Regions from separate parts of the Homo sapiens genome. Here regions 1 and 2 are each linked to region 3. The links come from fine-mapping of genetic effects on gene expression. A gene starts in region 3. Each other region holds a variant in brackets. All regions are shown on one strand. Distances are from middle to middle.

Region 1 (2,761 bases), 33 kb after region 3:
TCATTTAAATTTTTTTTTACTTTTTTTTTTTCCAAGAGCACAAATCCACTTTTATTTATTTACTTTTCATTAATTTAAATGCTTGAGGGGTACAGCGTCACACAGATTCTGTGTCCAGTGGCCTTAGCAGGAAGATTGCTTCAGAATTTGGCATGAACCATGCCACTATTTCCCTGGGACCAAGTTACCTTTCCCTAGATTACTCTGGTTTTGTTTGGTTTGCCACCAGGAGTCACTTTGTTGTTCTTTGTTTTGTATATATAAGTACATCTTATGCCCGAACAGAATTCTGTTTCATTTTGAGCATAAGCACCTTCTATTTTAAAAAGAGCTGTGTGCTGTCTTTGGTTCTGGAGACCCCACTTATGCTCAGCAAAAATGGCCTTGGACCACAGCCTTCCAGACATACTTCCTTTTAGTATTCCTGTTCCCAGCAGGCCTCCACAGGCTCCAAGTTGGCAGAAAGAGAAAGGCCATTTAAAATTTTAAAAACAGGTACAACATAATTCATTGTCTCCAAAATTGAGGCATGTATTATTATACCTGTGTTTAGCTAAAATAACAGTTTTTGAACTTGTGATTATGGAAAACTTTAAAAATGATAATGTATTGACAGAGCATCAGTAGAAACTCAGAAAAAAGAACATAAACTTGTATTAAAATAGATTACAAAAAGTTATTTCACATACACAAAGTAATGGCTGGAAGAAATTAAGTTTTGATTTATGCCTTTATTATATAATAAAAAGTTAAAATATATGTTGAAATTATTAGGCAAAAATCACAGCACAAATCAGCTATGATTCAATAACGTAAAACACAATAGTTGTATGTTTATGCATCACTTGAGCATCAATGCATTCATGCATATGTGGTATACTGTGGACATCCTGGCTTTCTGAGGTGTGGCATGCTATTATGAGTAGCTTATCTCATGGTAATTTTAACTGTATCAAATATACTCAGTATTTTTGTGTATTAAAAATTTTAGAACAAAAATATTGTTAGAGGATTTTTCTTCTCTCTTCATTCCTCCTATCCCCACCCCTTTATCCTATAAACTGTCTATAAACATTTCATGGAGGGTTAGTGCTTTTTAGAATAGTTTGGGAAAAGCTGACCTAAGGCGGTAAATTGTTATAACTGCTGTTTTAAATCACAACAGATTTCGTTATTCAGTAACTGAAGGAATGTGGCCTCCTTCCATGATAGCCTTTTGGTGGTCATTTTTTGTTTTGTTTTGGTTTGGTTTTTTGATAACACTGAAGTAAGTTTCTGAATGTATATAAACACATTATTACTTAGCTTGATTTAACATTCTTCGTAGATAATCTGTTTTCTGGGATTTTCTTCAAAGCTTAAAAAATATCAAGTATCTTTGTTATATTTGTCACAAAGAGCCTGTACCAAACTCCTAATCAAATGAAAGCAGCCTTAAATGTTTCATAAGACTACAGCTAATGTCTTTATCTCTCTAGCTTTCGAACCTCTGATTTGGAGTTC[A/C]GTGGAAATTTAACCTTTTTGGACCTCTTCCCTTGGTGACTCACAGTCTCTGGAATCATAAGGTCTGCATTACTTTACAGCTCAATTTAATTCATGAGAACTATAGGAGCCAAAAGGGAACTAATCAGAATCACTAAAATATTGAAACAGATCAATTGTGACTTTTATATTTGTATGGAATATGTGGAATTTCTCTCCCTGGTTTGGTTAATGAGTGCTTTTGAATTGGGACATATGTTGATGGTCTCATATTTATGATTTATGATTTCTAAATAGTGCATATCCCAAAGGACAGATTACTCCAATTGGAACTAGGCACTTTGCTTTTATAAACTTGATGAGTTACCATGGAATATCAGTCTTAGTTGAGCCCTCTATGCACTAGATCACTGATGAAGTTAGAGTTGTTATTTTGTGTTTGCAAAACACTATCTGGATTGTATTTATTTATGTGGTGGACAAAGAGGTTAGAAGTTATAGATACTGAAAAGTGAAAATTCATTCAGTAGACTTTCTCTTATATTCTAATAATGAAATTAAGCTAGTACTTAGTTTGTCCTATAACTCTAACCCTTCATTTGGGTCAAATAGCAGTAGAAGTTATTCCTTTTAAATGTTGCTGTGGTGTTGATTTCATTATCCAAAAATCTACTGTTAGAGGAGTGAAGATAATTCTGTGTTTTAATCTTGCCCATGATTTATATCTCTATCAGCTAGCTCTGAAGTGTTTTGGGTTTTGTTTTGTTTTGTTTGTATTTTATTAACACAGTTAAACATGATGCCTTGATTTATAATTTCTGTTAATTTGCATTTATTCTTCTTATGTTCCTACTCATAAAAATAAATTCTATAGTCCTTTTGAGTATGCTTTGAACACTTATCTACATGTAACATTTCATATTTAACCCTGGAAGGACTATTGTAGTATTTTTATCTGAAGGTAAAAATAATGAGTAAATAAAAACAGAACGTTAGATCTGTTTTTCAAATTTATATATTGTTTCAGTGTGTAGCCTATCTAAACAAGCGGTAAACTTGCTCATCAAAGACTAAATAGGTCCATTGGTCCTTTTATATGAGGGGGTGCTGTTAGTGCTGTGGTTTACCAAAGACTAAGCCAATGGTCTTTCTCCTTATTTTACTATTAGTACTAGTAGAGAAAAATACTCATCCTCGATTTATTGTGATGATAATGACAGGTAATGATTTACTACAAGAGTCTGTCAGATTCTAAGCTGGCTAAATAATTTTTCTTTAT
Region 2 (2,761 bases), 80 kb before region 3:
CTTTATTATCTTTGTGGGGTTATTTTGTTTTGGTTTGGTTTTTTGAGACAGCCTTGCCCTGTCACCCAGGCTGGAGTACAATGGCATGATCTCAGCTCACTGCAACCTCCGACTCCCAAGTTCAAGTGATTCTCCTGCCTCAGCCTCCAAAGTAGCTGGGATTACAGGTGCCCACCAAGAAGCCCGGCTAATTTTTGTACTTTTAGTAGAGACAGGGTTTCACCATGTTGGCCAGGCTGGTCTTGAACTCCTGACCTCAAGTGATCCACCCTCCTCAGCCTCCCAAAGTGCTGGGATTATAGGCGTGAGCCACCATGCCCGGCCTATCTTTGTGTTTTCTATTGATTATGCTGTTTCTCTTTTTGTCCCTGTTCTTGCTTTCTGTTGGGTTGATTGAAATTTCTTTGTTCCATCTTATTTCCTTTACTGGTTTGAAATTTATACATTTCATTGTTATTTTTCTAATACTTTTAATTTTTTATATCCATATATAATGTTGCCTAACAAAATCTAAAGGTAAACAGTACATATAGACTCTTCCCAAACAAGATGAGTGTTCACTTCCTCCCGCTGTTTTCCTTTTCCCCAACTCTCCTGTTGATATAATCCAGAATTCTAATTCTAAATTGTTATTTTAAGCATCCATGGCAATCAATACTTTAGTCTTAAATAATAGCATTGGCTGATTACTTAGAGAATTGTTACTTTTTTCACACTGCTTCTTCCTCTGGATTCATGTCATTTCTTGCAGGAGGACTTCTTAAGTAGTTCTTTTCAACAGAATCTGTTGCTGGCAAACTTTCTTAAATCTTGAATGTTCAAGGTGAGGGCTTAGAGCAGGCCCGCTGCCCCCGAGTCCAGGGTGAGGGCTCAGAGCAGGTCCACTGGCCTCACAGTCCAGGGTGAGGGCTCAGAGCAAGCCCACTGCCCCCGAGTTCAGGGTGAAGGCTCAGAGCAGGTCCACTGGCCCCAAAGTCCAGGGTGAGGGCATAGAGCAGGCCCACTGCCCCTGCAGCTCAGGGTGAGGGGCTCAGAGCAGGCCCACTGCTCCCCCAGTCCAGGGAGAGGGCTCAGAGCAGGCCCACTGCTCTCCCAACACTCAGCTTTTCTCCCAACAGGAATCATAGAAAACTCAGAGGCTAGTGAAAGGTTAAAGCAGGTGGTCCACACCAGCTGCAGAGTCAAAAAGAAAATACACGTCTGCTGCCATTTAGAGTGAGGACACAAACTCAGGCAAGACTGTTTTTCACACGATGATCCATGGGTGGGGCCTTGCTTGGCCCCCCCCCC[C/G]CCCACACACACACACAGCTGCTGACCTCTGAATACAAAACAATTTTTTTGTTTCAGGACCGGGCGCAGTGGCTCACGCCTGTCATGCCAGCACTTTGGGAGGCCAAGAGGAACGGATCACTTGAGGTCAGGAGTTTGAGACCAGCCTGGCCAACATGGCGAAACCCTGTCTCTGCTTAAAATACAAAAATTAGCCGGGCATGGTGGTGGGCGCCTGTAATCCCAGCCACTTGGGAGGCTGAGACACAAGAATCACTTGAACCCAGGAGGCAGAGGTTAGAGTGAGCCGAGATCGCACCAGTACACTCCAGCTTGGGGGACACAGAAAGACTCCGTCTCAAATAAAAATAAAAATAAAAATAAACATGCTTTAGGGGACTTGGATGAAATTGAAAATGTCCTTTTTGACTTTGAACAGATCAGATTTGGGTGATTTCTTAAGAAATCTTTGAAGCTTTAAAGTTGTGGTAAAAATAAAAATCCATCTTCCTTTTCCTGCATAGGTTATTCAGAATAGGCTGTTTTGATAAGAAAGGCTCCCCAGATTTCCAGAGGGAAGGGTCCAAGCTGCCAGTGTTCACCCAGCACCAGGACTCATGCCCTGCCCCCAGGAGACCTCCCCAGCTCTCCAACCCTCAACTCCGTGCTGACCTGGTGGGGCTGGAAGCCAGGGTTCCAGGGTTCCTGAGGGGCCAAGGCCTCCCCGCAGGTCCTCGCCTGCCTACTAACATCCACCTCCAATGGACCCAGTCTGCCCCAGATCCCCCCAGCCCAGGTAGAAAGGAGCCCCGGGTCCTCACTGGCTCCCTCGGTGGCCTTCTCGGTGCGGTGGGCCAGGCCCTCGGCAGCCAGCTTCCCCAGGCCTCCCAGCATCATGTGGCAGCAGATGGTGGCCAACTAGGATGCTGAGGACTGGCCCAATGTGCCTTTAGAGATGCCTCTGGTGCTCGTCTGGGCTCTGGGGCAACAAGCCCTCGCCCCAGCCCAGTAGGAGGCTGGACAGGTGAGTCAGTGAGGACGGTAGCAGGAAAGGGGCTGGGTGGAGCCACCCCGGCACTGGGGTGGCAGCATCGCCTGACAGCATGAGACTTCTGTAACCCTGTCCTAGGGACCCCGTGAAGGATAGGGGCAGGGAGCAGGGCTGAGGCTGGACAGGAGAGATCTGGACATGCCCCTTCCTTGAGGCAGAGGGCCTGAGTGCCAACCCCCCTGAGACCCAAGCTTCCCAAGCCTGGGCACTGATATGTACCCGGAGACAAGACCTAAGAATCTAAGTCTGCTGCTCAAGGTCCCCAGTGTGGCCCAGTCAGGGGTTTGGGGGTTCTACGGGCCTGGAGACCTGGGCAGTCCTTTGGGTCACAAACACAAGTGGAGTGAGGGTGGCTGCCCTCCCCATTCCTGGAGACCCGGGCAGTCCTTTGGGTCACAAACACAAGTGGAGTGAGGGTGGCTGCCCTCCCCATTCCTGGAG
Region 3 (2,761 bases):
CCCCAACATGGGTGACAGAACGAGGTCCTGACTCTAAAAACAAACAAAAAAAAAACGAAACAAAACACCATGTGTTGTAGATTCAGTTTTTTGACAAAGGTGACACCAGGGAAATGAAAGGTCTTTTATATTTTTTTGCACTAGAGTCAGTCTGAACATATTTCGTTGTTGTTGTTCCTTAGTATAAAATACCTAGAGAAATATTACAAGGATTCTCTAAAAAGAAAGTACTTTCGTAAAGGCTTTATCCACGACCAACTGCCTATCTTTAGGTCCAAGTTCTATTTATCTAGTTGAACAACCACAGTTACAAAGTACCAAAGTTCTGGAAAACATATTCACAAGACCGAGGAGAGGCAAAGGCAAGATATTTATGCCTCTGTATACCTTGATGTTGCCTATTTCCTTTCCTATAATTCTTACCTGGCTTCTTTCTTCATGTCTATATATCACCTTTAAAGTTCAGCTTACTTCCTAGCTCCTAAAGAAGGTTTCCTAGCCTGTCCCAAGTCATATTTATTTCTCACTTACATGCAATATTACTGAATATTCTGCCCTTACGGCTACTTGGAGGCTCAGAATATGTCACTGTGTACTAAAAAGTTAACTACGGGCTTGCTATTTGGAATACATTTACTCCCAAAGCTGGGCTCTACTCTTAAGGGTCAATCACACGGCCCACCACACACAAAACGTACGAGGCTTGGATATAAACCTAAGAAAACATGCATCATCTCGCGAGTCCAGGTCAATCACGGACAGCTTCCCCAGGAGATCCGTGGCCCTTTTTTAGGCCTTTCTATCTTGAAAGAGCAGCCATGCAGATACACTAACCCCACCACTGGTACTTAAGCTTGTAAACGCCAGCAAGGAAAAAAAAACCAACAACATAAAACATGGGACGCGCAACTTTAGTGTAAACGCAAGAACCAGTCAGAAATAATCGCAAGCTAGGCCCCATACTTACGCGGGACGCCAGCCAAATCCGCGTGCGAGTAACCTGCTTCGCCGGCTCCGAAAAAGCCGGCCAATACCCCTGTGGTTTTGTCGCCGCTTCCCCCGCCTCCTTCCATGGTATCGCAGCAAACCGAGTGGTTCCCGCCGCTGCCTCAAGCCTGGGTGGTCCGCTGGGCCGTTACTCCTCAATAACAGCGGGTAACCCCGCGTTGCCAGCGCCTACTTCACACGCTGACATTCCGGGCGCCGGTTCCCGTTAAGCGCCACACTTCCGCTTTGCGGCAGTGTGCGCCCCGGAAGCCGGAAGCGCCTGACGGCAGCTTTCCGGTGGTGGGAAAGTGAACGAATCCCGAATCAAAGCGGCGCATTGAGGCAGGTGGGGTGCCAGTGGAAGAGGGAAGGCAGGCGAGTGTTTACGGCCTGACTTGGGAGGCCGGCGGATCAGCAATTGCAGAAGCAGGCAGCGGCAGAGAGGGAATGGTGCAGGCAGGCGCTGAGAAGGAGGCGCAGTCCATCTCTCTCAGGGTTAGTGAATGAGGCTCTCCGCCCGGGCCGGCCCGGGGACAGTGCGCTGCTGGTCCCAGCATGAATGCGGGCCCCGGCTGTGAACCCTGCACCAAGCGACCCCGCTGGGGCGCCGCTACAACTTCGCCGGCTGCTTCGGACGCCCGGAGCTTTCCCAGCAGGCAGAGGCGCGTCCTCGACCCCAAGGACGCTCACGTGCAGTTCAGGGTCCCACCGTCCTCGCCAGCCTGCGTCCCAGGGCGGGCGGGACAGCACAGAGGCAGCGCCACCTCGCTTGGTACGTGGGAAAATAAAAATCTTTGTCCTTCGCCTCGGCCCGAACCTTCTGGTCTCAGTCTGAGGACCCAGGGGCTCCAGTCACTCCTTTCTGGTCTTGTGTGCATCGTCACTCTTGAGGTCCACTTGCTGAGCTACCAAAGCCACTAGTGGGTGAATGGGGCCGCATTTTTCCCAGTGCGATTGATGTGAGAAACTCTGATGAGCAGTCACTCACAGGGCGGAAAATGGCAGGAGACTCCACCACCTGTTTGCTTCTTCAGGTTTGATTGAGAAATTGCCTTAGTCGTCAAGGAGATCTAATTGTGTATGTAAAACAGTAGGGCGCTTCAGCCTCTAGATAGGAAGAAAACAACTTCACTTGTTCAGATTCTGGGTCCCAGGGTGCAGAGCTATTAGTTTAAGCTGGCATTGTACCCGTCCCTGGTATACAGTGTTGAACGAGAGAAACTTGGCCTCTGCCTTCATACCTTAAAATCTATCTGGAGAGATAGACGATAGCAAAAGTTAATATAATAAAAGGTAATGGATGTTCTGATAGATGAATGACAGATTGTTTTACCTAACTGAATTTATGGAATCGAAAATAGTCCTCCAGAAGATGAGATGCTTATTCTGAGGACTGTAGAATGAGTAGGAGTTAGATGAAGAGGAAGTAAGAAGTGTTTCAGGAGTGCAACCGAGGCCGGGCGCGGTGGTTTTGCCTGTAATCCCTGAGCTTTGGGAGGCTGGGGCGGGTGGATCACCTGAGGTCAGGAGCTCAAGACCAGCCTTACCAATATGGTGAAACCCCGTCTCTGCTAAAAATACAAAAAATTAGCCTAGCGTGGTGGCGGGCAACTGTAATCCCAGCTACTCGGGAGGCTGAGGCAGGTGAGGCAGGAGAATCGCTGGCATCCGGGAGGCGGAGGTTGCAGTGAGCCGAGAGGGCACCATTGCACTCCAGCCTGGGCAACAAGAGCGAAACTCCGCCTCAAACAAAACAAAACAAAACAAAACAAAA

Alleles and levels. Positions count from the first base shown, and alleles are read on the strand shown. Sizes are in standard deviations (SD) of each study's normalised expression. Not every link is listed here.
In carriers of allele C in region 2, the expression in monocytes of the gene that starts at base 1,241 in region 3 tends to be lower than with G alone (large effect, 1.3 SD a copy in Schmiedel 2018).

Evidence for each region.
Region 1: its variant is fine-mapped to the expression of PARG in whole blood (INTERVAL, PIP above 0.99).
Region 2: its variant is fine-mapped to the expression of PARG in monocytes (Schmiedel 2018, PIP 0.95).

The regions. Positions count from the first base shown.
Region 1 is chr10:49,907,259-49,910,019 of GRCh38, reverse strand. The region is part of intron 7 of PARG (poly(ADP-ribose) glycohydrolase); the gene reads left to right. It also overlaps the pseudogene RPL35AP24. Among named protein-coding and RNA genes, the nearest start is that of PARG, 33 kb to the left of the region's middle. The variant A/C (reference allele first, on the strand shown) is at 1,504.
Region 2 is chr10:50,020,054-50,022,814 of GRCh38, reverse strand. It overlaps the pseudogene FAM21EP. Among named protein-coding and RNA genes, the nearest start is that of AGAP6, 33 kb to the right of the region's middle. The variant C/G (reference allele first, on the strand shown) is at 1,291.
Region 3 is chr10:49,940,507-49,943,267 of GRCh38, reverse strand. It overlaps PARG (poly(ADP-ribose) glycohydrolase), which reads left to right and starts at 1,241. Exons shown (of 18, transcript NM_003631.5): 1 at 1,241-1,759. The coding sequence starts at 1,543. It overlaps TIMM23B (translocase of inner mitochondrial membrane 23 homolog B), which reads right to left and starts at 1,215. Exons shown (of 7, transcript NM_001290117.2): 1 at 968-1,215. The coding sequence starts at 1,073. TIMM23B-AGAP6 (TIMM23B-AGAP6 readthrough (NMD candidate)) reads right to left here and starts at 1,215. Exons shown (of 17, transcript NR_158661.1): 1 at 968-1,215; 2 at 1-33. RefSeq lists an enhancer at 1,331-1,400.